Linked DNA regions of Homo sapiens. The protein of the gene in region 4 purifies or fractionates together with the protein of the main gene of each other region. This does not show direct contact. Each region holds a gene or a part of one and is shown on either strand. Other genes may lie near its edges. The genes, in order: SLC12A7, ARL6IP5, GSTCD, C5AR2, NR2F6, GUF1 and MAN1A2.

Region 1 (3,500 bases), on a different chromosome or scaffold from region 4:
ACACGTGGCTGTGGGCCCTCACAGCCGCTCCTGACACACCCGGGGCCGAGCTCGGAGGGACCTGCAGGCAGGAGGGCTAGAATTGCCTCTGCCCACCACCCACCTCCCACCACTCCCATGCTCTGTGCAGTGGCCAGGGGCAGAATGACCACCATGGGGTCCAAGCCGCGGGCATGCGTCCCACACACGGCACTGTGAGGATCCCGCAGGGGAGGAGAGCCCCCGACCCTGACCTTCCAGGGTCCCCCCGACGAGGGTGCGGGACTCACCTGCAGGAAGGGGACGATGCCGTCACGGGCAATGGCCTGCAGTAGGCGCGGTGCCCCCGTGAGGCTCTGCAGGCCGGCACCGCAGGTGGAGAAGAAGGAGCCGATGACGATGACCCAGGGGGAGGGCCAGGCCAGCATGCCGATGACCAGGTTCCCCTGCAGGGCCTCCCCGAACCTGCAGGCAGGCGGGCAGGCGGGCGGGCGGCTTTCAGAAGTGAGCCTGAGTCAGACAAAATGTCTTCTCCCACCCAGAGCGAGGGGCCCAGTGCAGTGGGGGCGACTCCTTGGAAAGCTGAGGCCCGGCCTCCAGTCCCCGTTGGCTGAAACCTCCACCAGGCTCTGCCCAGCATGGCCAGAATGCTCTGGAGGGTCTTCAGCGGGGGAGGGGGTCCTGCTCACCTCAGGGTCGCTCTTGGGAGCAGGGAAGACCCAGCCTGGCATCAGCTTCAGTCAGGGACCACCCAGGACCCCCGGGGCCTTGGGGCTGCCAGACACGCACACCCCATGAGGATGCAGGGTCAGTGATGACCTGCCTGGGACCCCACTACTTCTCCACTTGCCAGCAGGGCTGAGGGATCTCCCAGGGCCAAGCCTCACCCGTCCACACCCCTGTGGCCTCCCCAGGAAGGGCCTGCGCCCCCAGCCGCATCAGGGCTTGGAGTTGGCTCTGAACGGTTCCCCAGGCCCTAGGCTCCAGCGGAAGAGACGACACATCAGACCAAGGGATCCCAACCCTGGGACCAGGACGCCTTCAGCTCTGCACGCGGACATGAAGTCCTAGGGCGATGTAATTTCAAAGCCGAATTCATCCTCAGGAAAACCCTTGAAGACTACAGGCTTTGCACGAAAACTGCAGGTGGAAACGTACTTATCTCGTAAGACCACGCCTTCAATGCAGGCCCCAAACAGCACAATGCAGGAGAGATCCACAGCCCTCGTCAAGGAAAGGCAGGTCCGTGGGTGCAGGGTCCTCAGGTACGGGGGGTGGGGTGGGGTGGGGTGGGGTGGGTGGGGAGATGCACTGGCCAGCGGGCCGCAGGATCCAGGTGGGCGGGGACCGTTCTGCATCCCATCCCATCCCGGGCACGTCCTGTCCCCCGTGTCCTCAGCGCACCCTCCTGGGGCTCTGTCCAGCGCCACAGAACGGGGCCCTGGGGTGGTGGACACACACCTGGCCTGGTGCTTGACCGCCAGGGATTGGCAGGGGACCATGCTGAGGGGACAATGCTCGGCTGGAAAGAGGCAGCCTTGGGATTGAGAAGCCAGAGGCCCCGCGGGCCCAGCCTGCCGGCGGCACACCCCACACACCGCTGCGCATCACTGTCCACACGCGGCAGGGTGACTGCTTCTGTTTTCTCTACGATCGCATCACACAGTGGTGAAGAAGCCAGGGTCCTGACAGCAGCCCTTGCCCCGTCTCCCAGGGAGGATGACGTGGTGAGAGCACAGCCTAACCTGGGAAGTCACATGCTGGTGGCCGAGGGTATGATGCTGAGCCGGGGAGGGCATGGGGGCCTCCCCCCAGGCAGAGGCTGGAACCCTCGCCTGCACCCCTCCAAGGATACAGATGAAAGACGTCGTCACTATGGCCAGGATGGTCCCCGTGGGGATGGACTTCTGTGCATCCTTGAGGTCCCCGGACCGGTTTGAACCCGCCATGATACCTGTGAACATGGAAAATGCTGCAAAGACCCATCTGAGGAGTCAGTGCCATGTGATGGCAGCCCCTGCCCAGAAAGCTGGAAAGGCGGTCTCTGGGGAGACCCCGAGCGTGAGCTGCAGCCGAGGCTGCAGTCCAAGCTCCGCCAGCCCACGCTGCAATACTGCGGCTGAGGGGATGCGGGCCCAGGCACGCGGATGAGCACCCACGTCTACTGCTCCCCTGGATCCGAGGACGAGAACCGACCCCGTCACTGACCCCCACGCCCCCCACACCCAGGGCTTCTCTGGAGCCTGTGTTAATCCCATGGCCAAGGGTCAGCCCAGAGACGGTGCTGAGCAATGGCTCACAGGCCCCCAGGACCTAAGGACTTTGGGAATGAGATCCTAGAACGACTCAGCCCAGCCAGCCAGGCCAGCAGACGCTGCGACCCCTCCCGCTGTGGCACCACCTTGCTCTAGGGAGCCACGGCCGGGGATGTTTCCACACAATCGGCTCCTACAAAGCTCTGGGAAGCCGGGTCGGTGGGGGCCACTTCACGCCTGGCTCGGTCCCATCCAAGGCGCAGCCTGAAGCACCCATTGCTCGGGGTGGCCTGGGAGGCAGCAGAGCCCACAATCCAGTGCCGCGGAGACACCCGGAGCCACGCAGAGGCTCTGCCCCCACGCCCTCCACCCGCGGCTCAGAGACACCCGGAGCCACGCAGAGGCTCTACCCCCACGCCCTCCACCCGCGGCGCGGAGACACCAGGAGCCACGCAGAGGCTCTGCCCCCACGCCCTCCACCCACGGCGCGGAGACACCAGGAGCCACGCAGAGGCTCTGCCCCCACGCCCTCCACCCACGGCGCGGAGCGCACTCAGACGGACGGGGGAGGCTGGAGCGGAGGTACAGGGAGAGGACCCCCGGCAGATCACCCCCTCCATAGCAAGACGGGCCCACCTTCAGTGGAGGCAAGGGAAACACGAGAAGCCAGCGCTGTGGCCAGGCCCTGCAGCTGACCCTGGGCTCCAGGGCTTTCGGATGTGCTGAGATGAAGTCCGGGAGCAGACGTGGGAGGGACCAGAAGGGACCAGAAGGGCAGCTGCAGGCTGCACAAGCAGCCAGCGCCTGTCAGGGGCGTCCCGACAAGAAGGCCGAGTGGAGACAGCCGGGGGCGTGTGTGTGCGACTCGAAGAGCACGGGGCCTGGCCCCACCCCCTGGGGAACAACCAAGGGCCCCACCCACCGCCGGAACAAGGCCCACTGTTTGAGGAGGACACAGAGGGCCGAGGTCCCCGGCCTCTGAGCTCACACTGAGGCCACTCCTAGGTGTCTCCTAACAGCCTGCCAGGTGTTCCCAGCAACCCTACAACAGCTTCTCCTGACACAGGGCTGCCTGGGAGAGCAGCAGACAGGCTTCTCACAAATCCATCAGGACGCAGGGCAGAGACCTCAGCCACTTCCCCTGAGCCAAACAGGCAAGATAAGCAGGGGCAGGAAGGAACACACTACAGAGAGAGAGACAGAGAGAGAGACAGACAGACAGACAGAGAGAGAGAGAGGGAGGGAGGGAAGAAGAGGGAGACAGAG
Region 2 (2,328 bases), on a different chromosome or scaffold from region 4:
AAAAAAACTATGTATGACTTGATGGAGAGCTTTACATAAAGTCCAAGGAGCCATTTGAAAGCTTGCATCAATTCGAGAAGCAGACTGGACTGTGGCTAACTAAGGCAGTTTACTAATAGTGTGAAGAGAGGGAGTGTAATATTGATATGGCAAAAGAGAATTGTTGCTTTGGTGTTAACCAGGTGTCCCTTCTCTGCAGTGATGTTTATCCATGCATCGTTGAGACTTCGGAACCTCAAGAACAAACTGGAGAATAAAATGGAAGGAATAGGTTTGAAGAGGACACCGATGGGCATTGTCCTGGATGCCCTAGAACAGCAGGAAGAAGGCATCAACAGACTCACTGACTATATCAGCAAAGTGAAGGAATAAACATAACTTACCTGAGCTAGGGTTGCAGCAGAAATTGAGTTGCAGCTTGCCCTTGTCCAGACCTATGTTCTGCTTGCGTTTTTGAAACAGGAGGTGCACGTACCACCCAATTATCTATGGCAGCATGCATGTATAGGCCGAACTATTATCAGCTCTGATGTTTCAGAGAGAAGACCTCAGAAACCGAAAGAAAACCACCACCCTCCTATTGTGTCTGAAGTTTCACGTGTGTTTATGAAATCTAATGGGAAATGGATCACACGATTTCTTTAAGGGAATTAAAAAAAATAAAAGAATTACGGCTTTTACAGCAACAATACGATTATCTTATAGGAAAAAAAAAATCATTGTAAAGTATCAAGACAATACGAGTAAATGAAAAGGCTGTTAAAGTAGATGACATCATGTGTTAGCCTGTTCCTAATCCCCTAGAATTGTAATGTGTGGGATATAAATTAGTTTTTATTATTCTCTTAAAAATCAAAGATGATCTCTATCACTTTGCCACCTGTTTGATGTGCAGTGGAAACTGGTTAAGCCAGTTGTTCATACTTCCTTTACAAATATAAAGATAGCTGTTTAGGATATTTTGTTACATTTTTGTAAATTTTTGAAATGCTAGTAATGTGTTTTCACCAGCAAGTATTTGTTGCAAACTTAATGTCATTTTCCTTAAGATGGTTACAGCTATGTAACCTGTATTATTCTGGACGGACTTATTAAAATACAAACAGACAAAAAATAAAACAAAACTTGAGTTCTATTTACCTTGCACATTTTTTGTTGTTACAGTGAAAAAAATGGTCCAAGAAAATGTTTGCCATTTTTGCATTGTTTCGTTTTTAACTGGAACATTTAGAAAGAAGGAAATGAATGTGCATTTTATTAATTCCTTAGGGGCACAAGGAGGACAATAATAGCTGATCTTTTGAAATTTGAAAAACGTCTTTAGATGACCAAGCAAAAAGACTTTAAAAAATGGTAATGAAAATGGAATGCAGCTACTGCAGCTAATAAAAAATTTTAGATAGCAATTGTTACAACCATATGCCTTTATAGCTAGACATTAGAATTATGATAGCATGAGTTTATACATTCTATTATTTTTCCTCCCTTTCTCATGTTTTTATAAATAGGTAATAAAAAATGTTTTGCCTGCCAATTGAATGATTTCGTAGCTGAAGTAGAAACATTTAGGTTTCTGTAGCATTAAATTGTGAAGACAACTGGAGTGGTACTTACTGAAGAAACTCTCTGTATGTCCTAGAATAAGAAGCAATGATGTGCTGCTTCTGATTTTTCTTGCATTTTAAATTCTCAGCCAACCTACAGCCATGATCTTTAGCACAGTGATATCACCATGACTTCACAGACATGGTCTAGAATCTGTACCCTTACCCACATATGAAGAATAAAATTGATTAAAGGTTTTTTTGGTGAGACTTTATTTAATGCACATCTGTCTTAAATACCTGAGAAACTTGGCGACGACCCTATAAACAGTGAAGCAAACACTTCAGCTGTTTCAAATACTGTTTAGTAAAGCTTGAATACTTTATTAACTTGCAGCCAGAATAAAACAATTCCAGTGGGATCCTATTTTTAAACCTGGCACGAGTTTTATATACATGTTAGCCCAGTTTTATATACATGTTAGCCCATTCCATTTTCTACAAGGTGAATTCTGCCGATAAAATCCAATAAATTTGGAGAAACTAATAAAAAAAAAGATACCTGTAATTACTAATGGCCAGTAGTCAATTCTGGAAGGGTAATAACAGAAAAATGTAACATATAAATGTTGTAAATTATGATTACATTTAAAAACAAGCTAAAATCTGCAACTAAGATCTTTAGGGTTGGGTGGTAGAAAAAGCATAATGTGAACTGCTTCACCTCTTTTGGCAAAACCTGTGTATTGAGGCCATAAGCTATGAAATTGGATCATCTTTTCTT
Region 3 (3,500 bases), on a different chromosome or scaffold from region 4:
ATAAGCAGGGCTTCCAAAGCATTGCTATTTGAGCTCCTATTTATATGTAAACATTCCATTTAAAAATCAACATAACTAAAATAAAGAAAAAAGAGTTATTTTCTAAAAATGTCTCCAAACTTTATAAATTAAGACTTAAATTCTTATTTTTCAATACTGCACTGAAATATTGACACACGTAAAGGGTATATTAGCCCATTTGCATTGCTGTAAAGGAATAGGTGAGGCTGAGTAATTTATAAAGGAAAGAGGTTTATTTGGCTCATGGTTCTGCAGGCTATATAAGAAGCATCTGCTTCTGATCAGGACCTCAGGAAGCTTTTAGTCATGGTAGAAGGCAAAGGGAGTGCAGGCATGTCACATGGGGAGAGAGGGTGCAAGAGAGAGCAAGGAAGAGGTACCAGGCGCTTTTCAACAGCTAGATCTCTCATGAACTAATAGAGCAAGAACTCACTCATTACCCCAGTGAGAGCACCAAGCCATTTACGAGGCATCTGCCCCCACGACCCAAACACCTCCTACCAGGTCCCACCTCCAACAACATTGGGGATCACATTTCAACATGAAATTTGGAGGGGATAAATATTCAAACTATATCAAAGGGCTACTTTATTTCATTGGTTACTGGGGTTTTTTAAAATAAATAAACTTTTATTCCTAATAGGAAGTTAAAATATTAAATGGTCAGGTAATTATGTTATCACTGTGTAGCTTCAAATAACAGAAAAAAGACATTATACTTACTTCAGCACAGGCTTTCAAGCAAGTCTTTTTAAAGCCCAGAAGTTCCAAAAGTTCCTTCTTTAAGGGGTCTGCTTCATAGGATTTCTGGATTATGTGTCTCAATACAACAGCAAGTCCTGCTCTACAAAAATTGTCTGATCGTTCTACTACTGCAGGCAAACAGCAATTTTGGACTATTGGTGGGAGCTCCTGCCTTGAAATAATCTGTATTTCAACATCCTGGATCAGGTCATCTCTTAGTAGTGAACTATCTCTACTCACCTCTTTGGTGACAACTAAGCAAATTTTAAAGATTTTACAGTCACAGTAAGATAACAGAAATAAAGTTACAGATGTATGAAGAGGAAAGATGCATCCTTCTGTTTGGTGAGAAAAGTCCAGGTACAGGTATTCTTCTTCTGTAAGACTTTTCTTTATGGCTTTCATTTTCTTCTTTCATTGGGTCACCTAAAGTATAAATTGAAGTGATTATGGTCTTAGAATATAATCATTTAGAAGCTAAAATAAAAGATGAATGTTTCAAAAGCCTGTTCTAGAAATCAGTAAAAATTTGCAGTAGATAATAATGCTATAAGGTTTGTTTCTGAAGACTGACTAAATGACTTCCAAAAGAAAAAAATTCCACCCTGTGCAATTAACTAGCATTAGAGGAAATATTACACCCAGCTCCTTTAAAATGAGCAAACCCCAGTGCTTTGCAATAGAGCCCTCCCAATCAAGTATTTTGGGGTCTCACTATATGTGAGAACAGGAGATAAATAGAAGGGGAAATAAATTAACCAAAAATACTGAGAGCTGTCTGGGGATAATATCCTTGAGAAGTTTTGACAGTGCTGGTCCTTCCATACTGCTTCTTTTTTACGACCCTACAAAATAATAGGGAGGGGATATTCGTTCTTTCAGGAGAAGTGGATTCTCCTCAAGTAAGTGATAGCTGCTGAGTGCTGAATCATAATATAAAAATATTTAAATTTCCCCATAACATGGATACTGATAGCTATCTTAAAGTTAACCTGTCCAAAATCCAGTTCCTTATTCTCTCCCACCCCTCAAACCTGCTCCTTATGTGTCTTCCCATCTCAGGTTACACCATTCTTTTCCTTCACACCCCCATAACCAAACCCTCCAAGGTCTTCCCACCCTCCTTAGAGAAAAGCCAAAGTTTCTGCAACAGCCTACAAAAATCTCCTTGATCTAATCCTCCTTTATGTCTCAGAGTTTGTCTCATTAACTTTCTTCATTGCTCACTGCTCCAGCCAAAGTAGATTGTTATTCCTCTAAAACAGCCATCTCCAACATTCTTGGCACCACGGACCAGTTTCATGAAAGACAGTTTTTCCATGGGAGGTTGGTGGGGGGATGGGGATGGTTTCCAGATGAAACTGTTTCACCTCAGATCATCAGGCATTAGATTCTCATAAGGAGAGTGCAACCTAGATCCCTCCTGCGTGCAGTTAAGAGGGTTGGAGCTCCTATGAGAATCTGATGCCGCTGCTGATCTGACAGGAGGCGCCATTCAGGCAGTAATGCTGGCTCACCTGCCACTCACCTCCCACTTTGAGGTGGGGTTCCTAACAGGCCACAGATGGATACTAGTCCTGGGCCCAGGGGTTGGGGACCCTTGCTAAAACACTAGGTACATTCTCACATCAGGGCCTTTGCATTTGGTGTTTCCAGTACCTAGAACACTTCCTCACTTCCTTCAGGTATTTATTTATTCAATGGCAACTTCTTACTGAGATCCTCCCTGACTACTCAATTTAAATCACAAACCCCAATCCCCACGCTCCCTGAAAAAAACCTTTCTATTTCCATCTATGTTTTTTCTTCCTAGCGCTTATTGCTATGGTGATATACTATATGTTATTATTTGTCTCCTCTAACTAGAATGTTCCATGAGTAAAAATTTTTTGTTCACTGCTTTATAGGTTTATTATATATATAAGCAAGCAGTATTTGACAAATGAAAGCAGAGATAAATATACATACTGGTTAAAGGTGCAAACACACACAGTCTTGAGGTCAGATTCTTCATGGCTATTTTCAAGTCATATTCCTTAAGGTTTTTATCAATTGTCCTGTCTTTTTATGTTTATACATTTCCCGGGTCAAAAATTCCTAATGTTCTAATACATAAATTACAATTCCAAAACTGACACTAGATGGCACTCTTTAAAAGTATTCACCATGGAAATACGTACCAGAAACATGACATATTAGAAGGAAAATTACTTTAAAAGCTGTTAAAAAGTACACATGCACCTCTTGTCTTTTAAGTGTATTCAAAATGTTAGTGTACACTTAATTTTAGAAAACCTTCATCATACTAAATTTTCTTTAATATTTTAAATCCCTTTTTTAAAAAAATCTGAAACAAGACCTAAACACTTTAAGCTTCTTAGTTCTTCATTTTTTAAAACTAAGGAACTTGTAATCCATTATAAAAAATAAATATAGTCAGTAAAGTATTATCTAAGTTTCTTAATAATACAAATAATCACTACTGCTTTATTTTATATTTCTTCTATTAAAATATAACAGATATATACCATGATTTGTTACTTCTTAAAAGATTATCTGGGGGAAAATTATTTTATATACTGTAAAAGCAACAACTTTTTAACTTACAGATGCCATTTTCTCCCTGAGCTTATTTTTTAAAAATTTTTGTCACTGAGAGATAATTTTAAAACAAAAAGGTATTTATTAAAGATCAAAGTTCAAAGAGTTTTTTTATAAAGCTGAATAGAGCTCTG
Region 4 (4,079 bases):
AGGTGGAGGTTGCAGTCAGCTGAGATCACACCACTGCACTCCAGCATGGGTGACAGAGTGAGACTCCATCTCAAAAAAAAAAAAATTGGATTTGGCTTAGATGATTTTGTCTTGCTGTTGGGTAATGTAAATGTTCTGAACACATTTGAGGTAGGCTACGCCCGTGAGGTCAAGGCTGCAGTGAGCCAAGATCGCGCCACTGCACTCCAGCCTGGACAACAGAGTGAGACCCTGTCTCAAAAAAAAAAAGTAGGCTATGATGTTCAGTAAGCTAGGTGTATTAAATCCAATTTGATTTACAATATTTTCAACTTATGTTGAAAATGTTGGGGGCTTTTGTTTTGTGTTTTCGTCTTGTTCAGTCACCCAAGCTGAGTTCAGTGGTTCAACCTCGGCTCACCACAGCCTCTACCTCCTAGGCTCAACTGATCCTCCTGCCTCAGCCTCTGGAGTAGCTGGGACTACGGGTGCACGCCATCATGCCCAGCTAATTTTTTTTTTTTTTTCTGTATGGACAGCCCTTACTCTGTTGCCCAGGCTGATCTCAAACTCCTGGGCTCAAGAAATCCTCCCACCTCAGCCTCCCAAAAGTGCTGCCATTACAGGCGTGAGCCACTGTGCCCAGCCTTACGATGGGTTGATAGAGATGGGACCCCATTGTAAGTCAAAGAGCGTCTGTACTTATATCTAGCTTTTAAATCATAGGTACCCTTCTTATTATTTCATAATAATTAAAATAATAGATGGCTTTTATTGAGCACCTATGACCTACAAGATATAACCCTCAACACAAACCCTTGAGGTCAATATTATCATCCTCATATCCCACAACATCAGCTCCTTCCAGCCTCGGGTGCCGCTGTGTCCCTGGCATCTGGGACAGAACCTGGCACACAGCACAGGCATGGTCGATATTTGGTAAGTGAAAGGATAAAAGAGTAAACTGAGGCACAGAGAGACTAAGTGGTCACTTAGGTTTCTTTTGTTGTGATTGCAAGCACCCTCACATGTGCCTCTTGGTGCACGCCTGTCTGTGCATCCAGTCTTGCTGGGTTCTCTGCTCTGGAAAACCCTGGAGCAGAATCAAAGAAGGCTGGCCGGGCGCAGTGGCTCACACCTGTAATCCCCGGCACTTTGGGAGGCCCAGGCAGGTGGATCACGAGGTCAGGAGATCGAGACCATCCTGGCTAACATGGTGAAACCCCATCTCTACTAAAAAATACAAAAAATTAGCTGGGCGCGGTGGCGGGCGCCTGTAGTCCCAGCTACTCAGGAGGCTGAGGCAGGAGAATGGCGTGAACCCAGGAGGCGGAGGTTGCAGTGAGCCGAGATCGCACCACTGCACTCCAGCCTGAGCAAGACTCCATCTCAAAAAAAAAAAAAAAAAAAAGGAGTCTGAACATTCTTTATTCCTGAACATCCATCTTCTAGGATTCCTCCCTCACGACCCAGCAATCAGCCTCCTTTCCGCAAAAGAACACATATGCTCACCAGAATACATGTGCCAGAATGTTCACAGCAGCCCAAGATGAGAAACCGTCCAAATAGCCACCCACAGCAGAATGGATAAACACATCATGGGGTGTTCACCCTGTGGAATATTCTACACGATGAGAATGAACAAACACCACACAAGAATGTGGACAGATTTTGTGATAGAACATTGAGGGGGCCAGGCACGGTGATTCACGCCTGTAATCCCAGCACTTTGGGAGGCCAAGGTAGGTGGATCACCTGAGGTCAAAAGTTGGAGACCAGCCTGGCCAACATGGTGAAACCCCATCTCTACTAAAAATACAAAAATTAGCTAGGTGTGGTGGCGTGCACCTGTAATCCCAGCTACTCAGCAGGCTGGGGCAGGAGAATCACTTGAACCTGGGAGGCGGAGGTTGCAGTGAGCCAAGATCGCACCACTGCACTCCAGCCTGGGAGACAGAGTGAGACCCTGTCAAAAGAAAGAAAGAGAGAAAAGGAAAGAAAGAGAAAAGAATTGGAATCGCTGAGTTAAAGGGCTTGCTTGCTACACATGCTACAGTTTGGTGGATCTGCCGAAAGCTGCAGGAATTCCTGCAGGTTTGAGAGAGGCTGTTTCCCATACATCTGTGTGTGAAAAACCATTTGGGCAGGGCACAGTGGCTCACGCCTGTAATCCCAGCACTTTGGGAGGCCAAGGCGGACAGATCACCTGAGGTCGGGAGTTCGAGACCAGCCTGACCAACATGGAGAAACCCCATCTCTACTAAAAATACAAAATTAGCCAGGCATGGTGGCATGCGCTTGTAATCCCAGCTGAGACAAGAGAATCCCTTGAACCTGGGAGGTGGAGGTTGCGGTGAGCCAAGATGGCACCATTGCACTCCAGCCTGGGCAACAAGAATGAAAACCTGTCTCCAAAAAGAGAAAGAAAAAAAATGCTTAGATCCTTTGACAAGAGCTTTGCTGCTGGGCTGCCCAAGTTAATTCAAGAGCCCAGGACTGTGACGTGCGTTCCAGTGTGGCTGTAATAAGACTGCACTTCTCAAACTCTAGTTCTGCTTCCCAGATTCTGAAAGTAATGATTCCGAGAAGCCAAGATCATGCAATCTCTCTCTCCCTCCTTCCCGCCCTTGTAGCCTCCATCCTTACCGTCTCTTCCAAGAGTGTCCCCACGTGAGTCAAACGCCACTTGGGAGCCCAATCCGGGCCCACAGCCAGGACCCAGGAGGTCTGGGGTCTCTCCCTGCCGTGTCTGGCAGCTGGTAGAGTCCTGGAAATCCGTCCTGTTTGCCAGGGCTCCTGTCGGATGCTGCTGAGCACTGCCACCTCACCAGTCCCAGTGAATCTTTATAAGCAGTACAAAATAGGAGTGGCCTTGTCTCGCTCTCAGGGTGTGTTTGTCCTGTCTTCTTCCCGTGACTCACAGAACCCAAAATTACGGGGTGGCTGGCAGGGCAGGAGAGGGCTCGGTTGGGTGGAGGGCTGATCCCAAGTCCCCAACCCTAGTCTCGAAGTCCCACCTTCCTGGAAGCCAGACCTGCATGCGGTTTGCTCTTTAACGCCTTAGAGGTCTTGGCCTGGATTCTGTTTGCCCACAACATGCCAGCTGCCCCCAGCCACCTCCAGGCCTCTAACTGTGTTCAACCCCTCCCTTCTGCAGCCTCAGGACAGACAAACATCCCTCCCTCCTCCTCGGCTCTGAGGAAGACAGCCTGGGGTCACATTCTCCACAAAAAGACCACAGCAGCTGAGCGCAGGGCCCAACGCCTCAGTGGTAGAAAAAGCACAAACAACTCCTTTCTTGGGCCTCAATTTTCCATCTGTAGAATGGGAAGATGTTGTTGGCCATAGCGATGCTTTACTTTTTTTAGAGATGGAGTCTTGCTCTGTCGCTCAGACTGGCGTGCAGTGAAAACATTATGCCTCACTGCAGCCTCAAACTCCTAGGCTCAAGTGATCCTCCCACCTCAGCCTCCTGAGTAGCTAGGACTACAGGCATGCACCAACATACCTGGCTAATTTTTTAAAATTTTCTGTAGAGGTGCGGCCTTGCTGTGTTGCCCAGCCTCAAGCCATCCTCACACCTCGACCTCCCAAAGGGCTGGGATTACAGAAGTGAGCCACAGCCGTGATAGCAATTCTTAACCTCTTCCAGCATATCACAGTGGCTGAGAACAAGAACTCAAGGGCCAGAATGATGAGATTCATATTCCAGGTCGACACACCCTCATCAAAGTTCAGGGCCTCAGCCCCTCTGAACCTCAACTTCCTCATCTGTGCAGTGGATGTTTGCTATGAGCGTTGGATACATTTAAAACGCACAGAACTGGCTGGGCGCGGTAGCTCACATCTGTAATCCCAGCACTTTGGGAGGCCGAGGCAGGTGGATCACTTGAAGTCAAGTGTTCAAGACCAGCCTGGCCAACATGGCAGAACACCATCTCTACTAAAAATACAAAAATTAGCTGGGCGTGGTGGTGCGTGCCTGTAATCCCAGCTACTCGGGAGGCCGAGGCAGGAGAATCATTTGAACCGAGGAGGCGGAGGTTCCAGTGAGCCGAGATCTCACCATTGCACTCCAGCCTGGGCGACAGAGTGAGACT
Region 5 (3,500 bases), about 30 Mb from region 4:
CAGCTGCGCGATCAGTTCGGACACCGGCTGCCCCGGGAAGAGGTCTCCGCCGCTCGCCACTGCCGCCAGCGCCGAGCCCGGGGGGCTGCCCGAGGAGGCGGCCACGGCACCAGGCAGCGAGTGCGGGATGCGGCCGCGCTGCACCGCTGCGGGAGGCGGGGACAGGAGGGACATGGGGGCGGGAGGGGAGGCGGGGGGGGGGGGGGCGGGCAGCAGGAAACGGGGGAGGGACAGGAGATGGGGGAGGGGAGGGCGGGGCACAGAAGGCCGGGAGGAGAGGAGATTGGAGAGACAGGAAGGGAAGCGAGGGGTAGAGAGGAGAGGGCCGGAAGAGGGGGGATGAGGGGCCAAGTAGGTGCCCATAGAGACATGGGGTGGGGGGCAGGTGGGGGGGGGCAGGTAGGGAGAATAACGGGAAAGGGAGACAAAAGTCATCAAGGGGTCACTCAGGCCCTCCCCTCCAAAGCCTCCAGGCCCAGCCTTTCCCAGAATGCCCAACCCCACCCCATGGGCGCCAGGCTGGTTAGAAAGTAAGAGTCCAGGAGTCCCTGTCTAGGTCCAGCCACCACCCCCCACCCCCAGCTCCTGGGGACAAGGAGGAGCATCTAATAAACCTTTTGGAGCCTCCTAACAGATAGTCATGGGGTTCCCAGAGCTGAGGATGGGCCATGGAGGACTTGGGGACCCTGGCCAGCTTGGTCCCCAAAGCAACAGATCAATACCCACCCAGCACTGGCTCTCTCCTATGGAACAGGGATCATTTCTCTACCTTCCATCCCCCTCCCCACCAGATGGTGACCCCTGAGGGCCGGTCTGGGTCCCTGCAGAGGCTACAGTGCAGGGAAGGGTTGGGGGGGACCTACAGTAAGGAGGGGTCCCAGGGGGGCTGCCATAGGTCCTCAGTAAACATTAGCCGCCATCAGTAGCCTTGCTTATGAAGCGGGGAGGCCCTGCTGCTGGCTTGGGCACGTCTGCAGTGACCAGGTGGGTGAGAAAAGGGAAACTGAGGCATGAAGAGGAAGAGAGTTGGCCATGTGCCTGCCTGGCTTGTGCCGGGGTGGGCGGGATGGCAGGGCTGACTGGGCTGGTTGCCAGCAGACTAATTAATGAGCTTTAATGAGCTGGCATGCCCCATCTCATCACCTCCGTGAACTCCAGGTCAACTCTGTGTAGAGCAAACACCGGAGGGGAACGCGAGCAGAAGCCAGGGGCGAACAGAGCTAAGCGGAGAAGCCAGGGCATGGGTTGAAGCCCGCTCCAAGGGGTCCCTGAGTCTGAGTCAACTGTCAAATGGGGATAGGTGGATGGGGCCCAAAAGTGGTTCCCCGGTCCTCCAGGAAGCTTCCTCCCGCTTTGTTCACTGGGTTGTGAGCAACCACCACTCCCTCACATGGCCACATTCCCACCCCAGGGCCTTTGAACTTTTTCTTTTTCTTTTTTCCCTCCCTCCCTCCCTTCTTTCCTTTCCTTTCTTCCTCTCTCTCTCTCTCCCTCTCTCTCTCTCTCTTTTTGAGATAGAGTTCTGCTCTGTCACCAGGCTGGAGTGCAGTGGCACAATCTCAGCTCACTGCAGCCTCCGACTCCGGGGTTCGAGTGATTCTCCTGCCTCAGCCTCCCGAGTAGCTGGGATTAGAGGCACCTGCCACCACGCCTGGCTAATTTTTGTATTTTTAGTAGAGACGGGGTTTCACCATGTTGGCCAGGATGGTCTCAATCTCCTGACCTCGTGATCTGCCCACCTCGGCCTCCCAAAGTGCTGGGATTACAGGCGTGAGCCCCCACGCCTGGCCGGCCTTTGCACTTTCTGTTCACTCTTCCTCAAACCCCTCCCCAGCTCTTCAGCCCAGACTGTGGAGGTTCAAATCCCAATCACAACTCTGTTGCTCTCTGACAAATGGCCTCACCAATCTGCTGTGTGCCTCAGTTTCCTCATCTGTAAAATGCAGACAGTGGCTCCCATTTGCAAGCCTAGCACTTTGGGAGGCTGAGGCAGGAAGATCGCTTGAGCCCAGGAGTTTGAGACCAGCCTGGGCAACATAGCGAGACCCCGTCTCTACAAAAAATTAAGAAATTAGCCCAGCATGGTAGCGAACACCTGTAATCTCAGCTACTCAGGAGGCTGAGGTGGGAGAATCACTTCAACCCAGGAGTTTAAGGCTGCAGTGAGCTATGATCGCACCACTGCACTCCAGACAGAGTGAGACCCCGTCTCAAAAACGATGTCACCAATCACTGAATTAAATGAGAATCTATACCTTAAAATAATGCCTGCCACACAGGAAAGGTAATTACATGGTAATTCAAGCCAAGGACCATTTATTGAACACCTACTGTGTACCAAGCCCTGGTCTAGGCGCTGGGGAACAAGACAGACAAAAATACCTGCCCACAGGGAATGGACATTCTGGGTGTAAGCAAATTACAGAACAAGACAGGTGGCGTCAAATACAGGGGGATCAGGAGGGCTTCCCTGAGGAGGTGATGTTTGAGCAAACCTTGAAGGCAAGGTTAGGGAGGGAGCCATGTATGGACCTGGAAAAAGTGCACTCCAGGCAGAGGGAAGAGCCCGTGCAAAGGACCCGAGGCAGGTGTGCTTAAAGCATGAGCTGTCATCATAAATATTTCCACCCGAGGCTTTTGGAGACTTCTGGCGAGGCTGTTTGCTCTGAGGCCATGACTTGAGATATATGAGGATTTTAGGTAAAATAGACAAGTAGAGGCAAAATCCATGTTATGGGGGCAGGGACAAGAAAGTTACCCCCAAACTTAAAAGGGCCACAGGGAGTGATCAGTTTTAAAAGAAAGCCCCTCAGCTGCCTCTCTCAGCTTCTCCCACCAAGGCCTAGACCAAAAAACAACAGCTTTACGCCAAGTATGGTGGCTCATTCCTGTAATCCCAGTAGTTTGGGAGGCCAAGGTGGGAGGGTCGCTTCAAGCTAGGAGTTCGAGACCAGCCTGGGCAACATAGTGGGACTCTGTCTCTAGAAAATAAAAAAAGCTGCCGGGTGGGGTGGCTCATGCCTATAATCCGAGCACTTTGGGAGGCTGAGGCGAGCGGATCACCTGGGGTCAGGAGTTGGAGACTCCAGCCTGGCCAACACGGTGAAACACCATCTCTATTAAAAATACAAAAATTAGGCCAGGCGCGGTGACTCACGCCTGTAATCCCAACACTTTGGGAGGCCGAGGCGGGCAGATCACGAGATCAGGAGATCGAGACCATCCTGGCCAACATAGTGAAACTCCATCTCTATTAAAAATACAAAAATTAGCTGGGCGTGGTGGCATGTGCCTGTAATCCCAGCTACTCAGGAGGCTGAGGCAGGAGAATCGCTTGAACCAGGGAGTCAGAGGTTGCAGTGAGCCGAGATGGCACCACAGCACTCCAGCCTGGCAACAGAGCGAGACTCTGTCTCAAAAACAAAACAAAACAAAATACAAAAATTAGGTGGGCGTGCCGGGCGCGGTGGCTTACGCCTGTAATCCCAGCACTTTGGGAG
Region 6 (4,010 bases), on a different chromosome or scaffold from region 4:
AATTAGTCGTCTATCAAGTACTGTTTTAATTCATAAAAGTTCCAAGAAAGGGCCAGGCGCGGTGGCTCACGCCTGTAATCGCAACACTTTGGGAGGCCGAGGTGGGCAGATCACGAGGTCAGGAGTTCGAGATCAGCGTGACCAACATGGTGAAACCCCGTCTCTACTAAAAATACAAAAATTAGCCATGATTGCTGGCGCGCGCCTGTAATCCCAGCTACTCAGGAGACTGAGGCAGGAGAATCGCTTGAGCCCAGGAGGCGGAGGTTGCAGTGAGCCGAGATAGCGCTACTGTACTCCAGCCTGGGCGACAGAGCGAGACACCATCTCAGGGGGGAAAAAAAAATCCAAGAAAGAACTGAGTCTGGTACAGAATTCTTGATCCTAAGAAATCCTCCAAATGAAGAAACTTTCAAAGGCTCTGGAAACAATACGAATGATTCTGTCTTCAGTCACAATGATGAACTGAACACAGCTGTCATCTCCCTCCTTCGCACCAAATTCTGGATATTCCAGAAAAGCGCAAGAGAAATAGTGGGAGACAAACACTGGATGCAATCCTCCTATCACCTGTTTTATCCCCCATTCTTACTTCGTCAGAGCTCATTCCATGAAGTGGTAACTTGATGACGATGGAAACATTGGGGGTCCAGCATGGAACTTTTTCCCACCTTTACTTCTTGCCAAAACCTTCCTGGATTCAGTATTGCAATCAATGTTATGGCCCGTTTCCTTTCAGATGCACTTCAAGATTAGCTCTGTCACTGACAACATGGGGAATACATTTCGACCTCCAGATTTTAAAAGTGCCATTATTATTTTGCCATTAGGTAGAAGGCTAAGTCTCAACGTTGTGCTAATAATAGCATCTTTAAGTCCCTGGACTAAGACCTCGGCTCCTGGTTCGGGAATCAGACTGCCTGGGCGGCACTCCAGGCTCCACAGCTCCCCACCTGTGAGCTCCTGGGCAAGTCACTCGGTCCGGATTTCCAGAGGTAGTTTGGGGGAACTGACAGTACACACACCACAGGGCAGTAGTAAGAAAGAGACAATGCAAAGGAATTGGCACAGCACTCAGCAGACAATATAAGCTAATATGTACTCTGTCTACACCCTGCGTTTTAGGGAGTCAATCGAAAGCCTCCACTCACGTGACCACTCCACTACCCGGCGCCAAGACGCGCTGATGTCACGACAGCGTGCGGCGTGCAGACGTCGGCAAGCTGCGCCGCCGCTTCGGGTTGCTTCCGGATCTGGTACTTGGGCAGAGCTCCCCGGGGTTCATTGTCTTCGCTTCACAGGATCTGTTTGAGTCCTGTCCACCGGATCCTACGGGGGGTACCTTCGAAAAAAAACGGGCTATGCTGCTGTTGCGTGTGGGTACCCTCTCCTGACGCCTCCGCCGCCCGGGTCATGTGGACCCTCGTGGGTCGGGGCTGGGGGTGCGCACGCGCTCTCGCGCCACGAGCCACTGGGGCCGCGCTTCTGGTGGCCCCGGGGCCCCGGTCCGCGCCGACCCTTGGGGCTGCTCCAGAGTCCTGGGCTACCGACAGGCTCTACAGCTCCGCAGAATTCAAGGTGACTGCCCCCTGGAATCTGATTTAGCCAAGTTTTCAAACGTTGGAGTGCCCCATGCGATCTTGGACATGTATAGGGCTTTCTGGGACTAGCTCTGAACCCTGCTTGCAACTTGGTACAGGGAGGCAGAGCGGAGAGTGTGAGCACTGCTCAGGTTCCCGACCCTCCACTCCTCACTAGTGTGACCTTGGGCAAGTCACTAACTTTGTAGGTTTTCTCATTTTCAATGTCAAATGTTGATTTGTTTACGCGAGCCACTGGTCGAAGTGCTTTGCGTTTATTCATCTATTTAATTCTAAAAAGCCTACTAAGCAAGTTGCTAGTAAATATTAATATAACGTCCATTTTCCTGCAAATTAAGTAGCTATGTGGCCTGGGCAAGTTACTACATTGTCACTCTCCTACTTCATTTGTTGAATGCAGAACTGATCAAACATCCAGTGGCTAATTTGTGAGATTTGTGTGATGTGAGAAGTGGACTTTTTTAGACTAATACCTAGAATGCAGGAAGTTCTCGGTCTGTCTTTGTAGTTTTATTTCATTCTACCTCAGCCAGAGCAAACCTGTGTAATTTTGACTCTGGTGGGAGAGGGTGGGAGGTTCAACAACTCTGATAATTGTGAATGGATACATTTTAGTCAGAAAAGTGAAGTGACTGAAGGCAAGCTATAAGTAGGCAGAAAGACAAAACCTTAAATTAATCAACTTTGGCCCTAATATGCCTGTGTTTTTAAAAATGGATTTATATTGCAATTCGAAGTATAAAGATGGTGCAATTCTCTATACCTTTTGAACTGAAGGGAAAGAAAATCTACAGGGCAAACATCAGAATTAGTTTTTTTTCGGCAGACTTTCAGCTATAATTGTGCTTTTATTATCTGTCTTTATGGGGCTATTAAAAAACAAAGCTCACGTGAATTTTATATTTCATTGTAATTTCATGGTTTTGCTGATTGTGAAATATGCAGTTGATTGGAAAAAAATAGAGTACAAAAAACTGGTATATTTTGCTTGATAACAATTTCTAGCAATTTGTGATGTGTTTCAGTAAAACGTTAAAGAAGATGTGTACACGAAAAACCAGGAGTTCCATTTTAAAATATTTTTAAGTTTTAAGTGATAAGTCTTTTGTTGGATGTCATCTTTTTTTCTTTCTCACCAGAGAAGCTGCAAAGTAGCAAAATTGTATTTAAAATAAAATTTTGAGGCTCCATTAGAGACACAGATTTTTAAATAAATCTGATTCCTGATTAAATGTGTGATAGGAGCAGAAAATTTATCTTCTTTCAGCTTTTCTGTAGCTCCATTGCCTCAAAAGTTTTACTAGACAAGGTATTCTCAGGCCTTTAGAAGTTCTAGGTGTCTCATGTTCTCCATTCACGATAATAAATTCAGTTCCTGATTGGCCCTAAAAATTGTGTAGAAATGTTAAGGGATTATGATTTAGCTGTATAGTTACCTTTGGCTATTAAACTGATGTTCCTTGTAATATGAACTTAGCCATACATGTCTTTTTCTTAGAATAATAATATAAACAATATAAATGCTAGAAATGATATTGTTCAACGATTAAAAGAATATTCTTTGAATTGGTATACTTGTTTGATAGTATGCCAAATTTATACTCCTAAATGTGGTATTTCCCCTTTCTAGGAAAAACTTGACATGTCTAGGTTTCCTGTTGAAAATATTAGAAATTTCAGTATTGTTGCACACGTGGATCATGGCAAAAGTACTTTAGCTGACAGGCTCCTAGAACTTACAGGTATTTCATTTATGTTACATACTTAACTGATGGCTGCGAGTTATTGGGAATTACTTTTACTCTTAAATTTTAATTTTATAAGTAATATTCTCTTTTTTTTTTAAAGCCCAGAGAAATATCAATAAGTGTTTCTGTTTATAGGGACAATTGATAAAACAAAGAATAATAAGCAGGTTCTTGATAAATTGCAAGTGGAACGAGAAAGAGGAATCACTGTTAAAGCACAGACAGCATCTCTCTTTTACAATTGTGAAGGAAAGCAGTACCTTTTAAATCTCATTGATACACCGGTAAGTTTAATATTAATTTTGCATGTATTGTTAAAGTCAACATTGTGTCAGTAGTGCAAACAGATCCTTGTTTAATTTTTGAACTGAGTATTAAACATCTGCCTTTGCTTTTTGTTTTCTCAGTGTTCTTATGTTAGTGTCAGTTGTTTCAAAAGTGCAGGCTACAAAAAAGAAACGAATATTTAACAGCTTTTATCAAGTAAAGTCAATAAATTTGCCATAATGCTCTTTCCTAAAAAATTAACTCACATTTACAGGTATCAATATTTTTGTTTCTCAGGGCCATGTTGATTTTAGTTATGAAGTATCCAGGTCACTTTCTGCTTGCCAGGGTGTTTTACTTGTGGTTGATGCAAATGAGGTAGGTATTTTTCATT
Region 7 (3,500 bases), on a different chromosome or scaffold from region 4:
TCTAATAAACTTGCTTTCACTTAAAAAAAAAAATCAATTAATGTTTACCATGTACTACTGATTTCTAGAAGATACTTAGCTTCTGCATTACCAACTTTCCAATCTTAGGCATGAGCTCCAATTTGAAAGTATCCATATCGATAAAAATAAGATTCGGTTGGGTGCAGTGGCTAACACCTGTAATCCGAACACTTTGGGAGGCCAAGGTAAAAGGATTACTTGAACACAGGAGTTTGAGACCAGCCTGGGCAACAAGTAAGACCCTATCTCTACAAAAATTAAAACTTAACCTAGCATGGTTGTTCACACCTGTAGTCCCAACTCATGCCCATAGTTTCAGCTACTCAGAAGGCTAAGACAGGAGGATCACTTCAGCATAGGAGTTTGAGACTATAGTGAACTGTAATTGTGCCACTGCACTCCAGCCTGGACCACAGAATGTACCCAAAAAAAAAAAAAAAAAACAAATGCAGCAAAGGCATCTACACCAGTCTGTTGTTGACAAACGTCAAATACAAACAAACCTCACAATAATTCATGTCTGAGTAAAGGGAAGTGGGAAAAATAACCATGAGCAATTTATAAGGGAAATGGAACATCCAGCAGACTTTAATATTAGTGCATAAAACAATGTGACGTCGCCCAAACAGGAGCAGAAAGCCCCAAATAAAAAACAGGATAGAAAAAAAAGGTCCAGAAGAGGGATGAGACAAAGAAAGATGACAAGAAAATTAAAATTGCAATAGTGAGATTTGAAATCTCTACTCTTGTAACAAAACTGAATCAAGCAAAAAAAAAACACGAATCATAACATGAAGAACTTGAGAAACTCACTAAAGCACACTGCAGCCTGGACTAGCCACATTTTAAGTGCAATAGTCATATATAACTAGTGGCTATGGTACTGGACAGCGCACAGGTTTGAGTGATTACGTCTAGCACAATGCCACACAGCTAGTTAGTAGAACTAAGATGCAGCCTTATTTATAACTCCAATGCCTTTGAGGAAAGTATCAAAGGTAAACATATACCTGACCCTCAAGTATTCAATTCAGACTAACAAAGTTCTGACTGGAGGGTGAAACTTATTAGCTATTCAGATAAACAGCTCATAAGCTGGGTTTTTTTTTTTTTAACTCACAAAGCCCATCTATAAATGCCATTATATAAAACAAATGTCAGTTTTAAAAAAAAAAGTTTTTAATTATTGAGATCTATTATGTACACAAAGTATACTTACGTATATTACTTTATGTATATTAGCGTATAACAACATGTATATTATAACAACTTCTGGTTTTGGGTACTGCAAAATCATAGATACTATAAATAACCATAATCAACACCAAACTACACATTTGATATATCCTTATCATCTATAAAGTGTATCTACAGTGTTTGAAAATTCTGGATTATTTATGAACTACTTAATAGAAGGGAACATATTGGTTTCCTCATGAAAATATACTAAATTCATGTAATACCACTATTATCTATAAATTAGGGCATTAATTAAATATAGTATGTATTTCTTACTAATCCATGGCCATGTCACCCAGAAACCTAGACATTATCTTGGACTCACTTTTCTTTCTATTTTGGCCCCATATTTAACCAACCACCATTTTCTGTGAAACTTAATAGTTTAACACCTCTTGACTCAACCACTTTTCTCCACTAATTTATCTCATTCTCCACTATCACCACTGCGATCTAAGCCAATATATCCTCTGTGACCCAGCCCCTCTTAACTTGTTATCCTCCTGCTTCTTACCATCCAGTAAGTAATCATTGCAACCAAAGTGATTATTTAATTTTTTTAATTTAAAATGATCATGTCATTCCCTTGCTTTTATTACAATCCTTCAATAACTTCTCTTAGTATTTATGATAAAAACCAAAATATTTAACTACAAACTCTCTAGAATCCTGACTAGAATTTGCAAACTCAACAACAACCAGGTTAAATATTGATTGATTTGTATTTACTTATTTCGCACTCTGAGTGGCACATGCCCGCCCCCGTCCCCCTCCCAAGGGAGCAGCTGCTACTGGGTTGTGGCTTGAATATTACCATCTGAAAATACACTGGATGTTGCCATAACCTCTAATTTTTCAAGAAAGATCAGAAATCCAGACTTTAACATGAAATCTCCTGATCTGTGAATGCTGACAACTAATTCAAACTTTTGTAACAACAATAAGGAGGCCAAAAAACTTGTAAGCAGGCCAAACCTGACCTCTCATCTAGTCTCATCACCCAGACCCACACCCTCTGCAACAGCCATACTTAACATTTCTCAGATTCTTAGTGATGCCAAGCTTTTTTTCCTTAGGGCTCTCACACATGTTGTGTCTTCTGCTTTGACCCTCAACCTCCCCTCAACCTCCAATTCCACTTCATTAAGCAATCTCCTACTCATTCTACGTTTCTGAGGCACACTTTCTCAATGAAGTCTTCCTTATTCCCACTGCCCCTCCACCCCCAACTCTATAGACTAGGTCACACATTCCTTGCTCTGAAAGCACTGAGTACAACTTCGTAACATTCATCACACCTCAAAAACAAAATTATTTATTTAATGCCCATCATCTCTCCCTAGATTGAAAGTTTCATGAAAGCGGGGCCTGCCACAGTAGGCATACATTTGTTGCCAACCAGTTTGGTTATAAAATGTTCCTTTAGACAATAAGATCCTAGTATACTTCTAAATATTAATCAAACTGTACCCTACTTTTCAGAAAATATACAGTATTTAAAGGAAAGTAGATTCCGAATAAAAATATTCCATTACAATTATAATCACTGATGATAATAATAGTTAACATTTATTGATCATTTACTAAATGCCAGGAACTATGTTGAGTGCTTTGCATGTACTATCTCTTTCAATAAAACAATCTGTAAAGTAGATACATGCCACTGTGATACAAAGGAAACAATATAGAGTTTTAAAATTTCTCAGTATCATAAATCTAATCAGTGGCAAGCTAGGGTATGAATCTATACAGTCTGACTCCAGAACTTAAACACCAAATTATTATACTAATCTATTAATAAAGAAATACTAACTAAACAAGTATCTCTTAAGTACTGCAAATAAGAAATGGTGACCATGACTTATTTTCCATTACTTATTAGTTAAAGTAACATTCCTCAGCCCTCTATCCTGTACCCTTACACACACACACACACACACACACACACACTAAATGAAGATAAACTGTCAATTTGTTTCTTCTAAATTAGGTAAGTTCTGACCCATACCCAAAATACATATGATCTTAGTACCAACTGTAAAAGTGCTATTTTTCTGAATTATTTTTAAATAAGTTAATGTTTATACATTTGATGTTTTCTGTTTCCACATTTTAAACATACACTTAATTTAAAAAGTATTTCCTTGCTCAAAGTAAAAGAAAGTTTATTACTACAGACTCTTTTCTGATATAGTAAACAACAGCAAATAATACGCTAAAGCAAATGTCAACTGATATAA

Evidence for each region.
Region 1: the proteins of C5AR2 (region 4) and SLC12A7 purify together in Homo sapiens (affinity purification with mass spectrometry; 2 studies listed by BioGRID and IntAct, with this or other methods). This does not show direct contact.
Region 2: the proteins of C5AR2 (region 4) and ARL6IP5 purify together in Homo sapiens (affinity purification with mass spectrometry; 2 studies listed by BioGRID and IntAct, with this or other methods). This does not show direct contact.
Region 3: the proteins of C5AR2 (region 4) and GSTCD purify together in Homo sapiens (affinity purification with mass spectrometry; 2 studies listed by BioGRID and IntAct, with this or other methods). This does not show direct contact.
Region 5: the proteins of C5AR2 (region 4) and NR2F6 purify together in Homo sapiens (affinity purification with mass spectrometry; 2 studies listed by BioGRID and IntAct, with this or other methods). This does not show direct contact.
Region 6: the proteins of C5AR2 (region 4) and GUF1 purify together in Homo sapiens (affinity purification with mass spectrometry; 2 studies listed by BioGRID and IntAct, with this or other methods). This does not show direct contact.
Region 7: the proteins of C5AR2 (region 4) and MAN1A2 purify together in Homo sapiens (affinity purification with mass spectrometry; 2 studies listed by BioGRID and IntAct, with this or other methods). This does not show direct contact.

Annotation. Positions count from the first base shown.
Region 1 is NC_000005.10:1,077,564-1,081,063, forward strand, and holds part of SLC12A7 (solute carrier family 12 member 7), read right to left. Parts: intron 1,934-3,500; coding exon 1,835-1,933; intron 1,196-1,834; coding exon 1,138-1,195; intron 445-1,137; coding exon 270-444; intron 1-269. UniProt on the Homo sapiens protein: Mediates electroneutral potassium-chloride cotransport when activated by cell swelling. May mediate K(+) uptake into Deiters' cells in the cochlea and contribute to K(+) recycling in the inner ear.
Region 2 is NC_000003.12:69,104,265-69,106,592, forward strand, and holds the end of ARL6IP5 (PRA1 family protein 3), read left to right. Parts: intron 1-199; coding exon 200-372; 3' UTR 373-1,828; downstream 1,829-2,328. UniProt on the Homo sapiens protein: Regulates intracellular concentrations of taurine and glutamate. Negatively modulates SLC1A1/EAAC1 glutamate transport activity by decreasing its affinity for glutamate in a PKC activity-dependent manner.
Region 3 is NC_000004.12:105,715,284-105,718,783, reverse strand, and holds part of GSTCD (glutathione S-transferase C-terminal domain-containing protein), read right to left. Parts: intron 1,192-3,500; 5' UTR 1,171-1,191; coding exon 745-1,170; intron 1-744.
Region 4 is NC_000019.10:47,330,896-47,334,974, reverse strand, and holds the start of C5AR2 (C5a anaphylatoxin chemotactic receptor 2), read right to left. Parts: upstream 2,801-4,079; 5' UTR 2,626-2,800; intron 1-2,625.
Region 5 is NC_000019.10:17,235,920-17,239,419, forward strand, and holds part of NR2F6 (nuclear receptor subfamily 2 group F member 6), read right to left. Parts: intron 147-3,500; coding exon 1-146. UniProt on the Homo sapiens protein: Transcription factor predominantly involved in transcriptional repression.
Region 6 is NC_000004.12:44,677,210-44,681,219, forward strand, and holds the start of GUF1 (translation factor GUF1, mitochondrial), read left to right. Parts: upstream 1-1,210; 5' UTR 1,211-1,361; coding exon of another isoform or gene 1,362-1,376; 5' UTR 1,377-1,413; coding exon 1,414-1,578; intron 1,579-3,231; coding exon 3,232-3,343; intron 3,344-3,484; coding exon 3,485-3,633; intron 3,634-3,913; coding exon 3,914-3,994; intron 3,995-4,010. UniProt on the Homo sapiens protein: Promotes mitochondrial protein synthesis. May act as a fidelity factor of the translation reaction, by catalyzing a one-codon backward translocation of tRNAs on improperly translocated ribosomes. Binds to mitochondrial ribosomes in a GTP-dependent manner.
Region 7 is NC_000001.11:117,370,449-117,373,948, reverse strand, and holds part of MAN1A2 (mannosyl-oligosaccharide 1,2-alpha-mannosidase IB), read right to left. Parts: intron 1-3,500. UniProt on the Homo sapiens protein: Involved in the maturation of Asn-linked oligosaccharides. Progressively trim alpha-1,2-linked mannose residues from Man(9)GlcNAc(2) to produce Man(5)GlcNAc(2).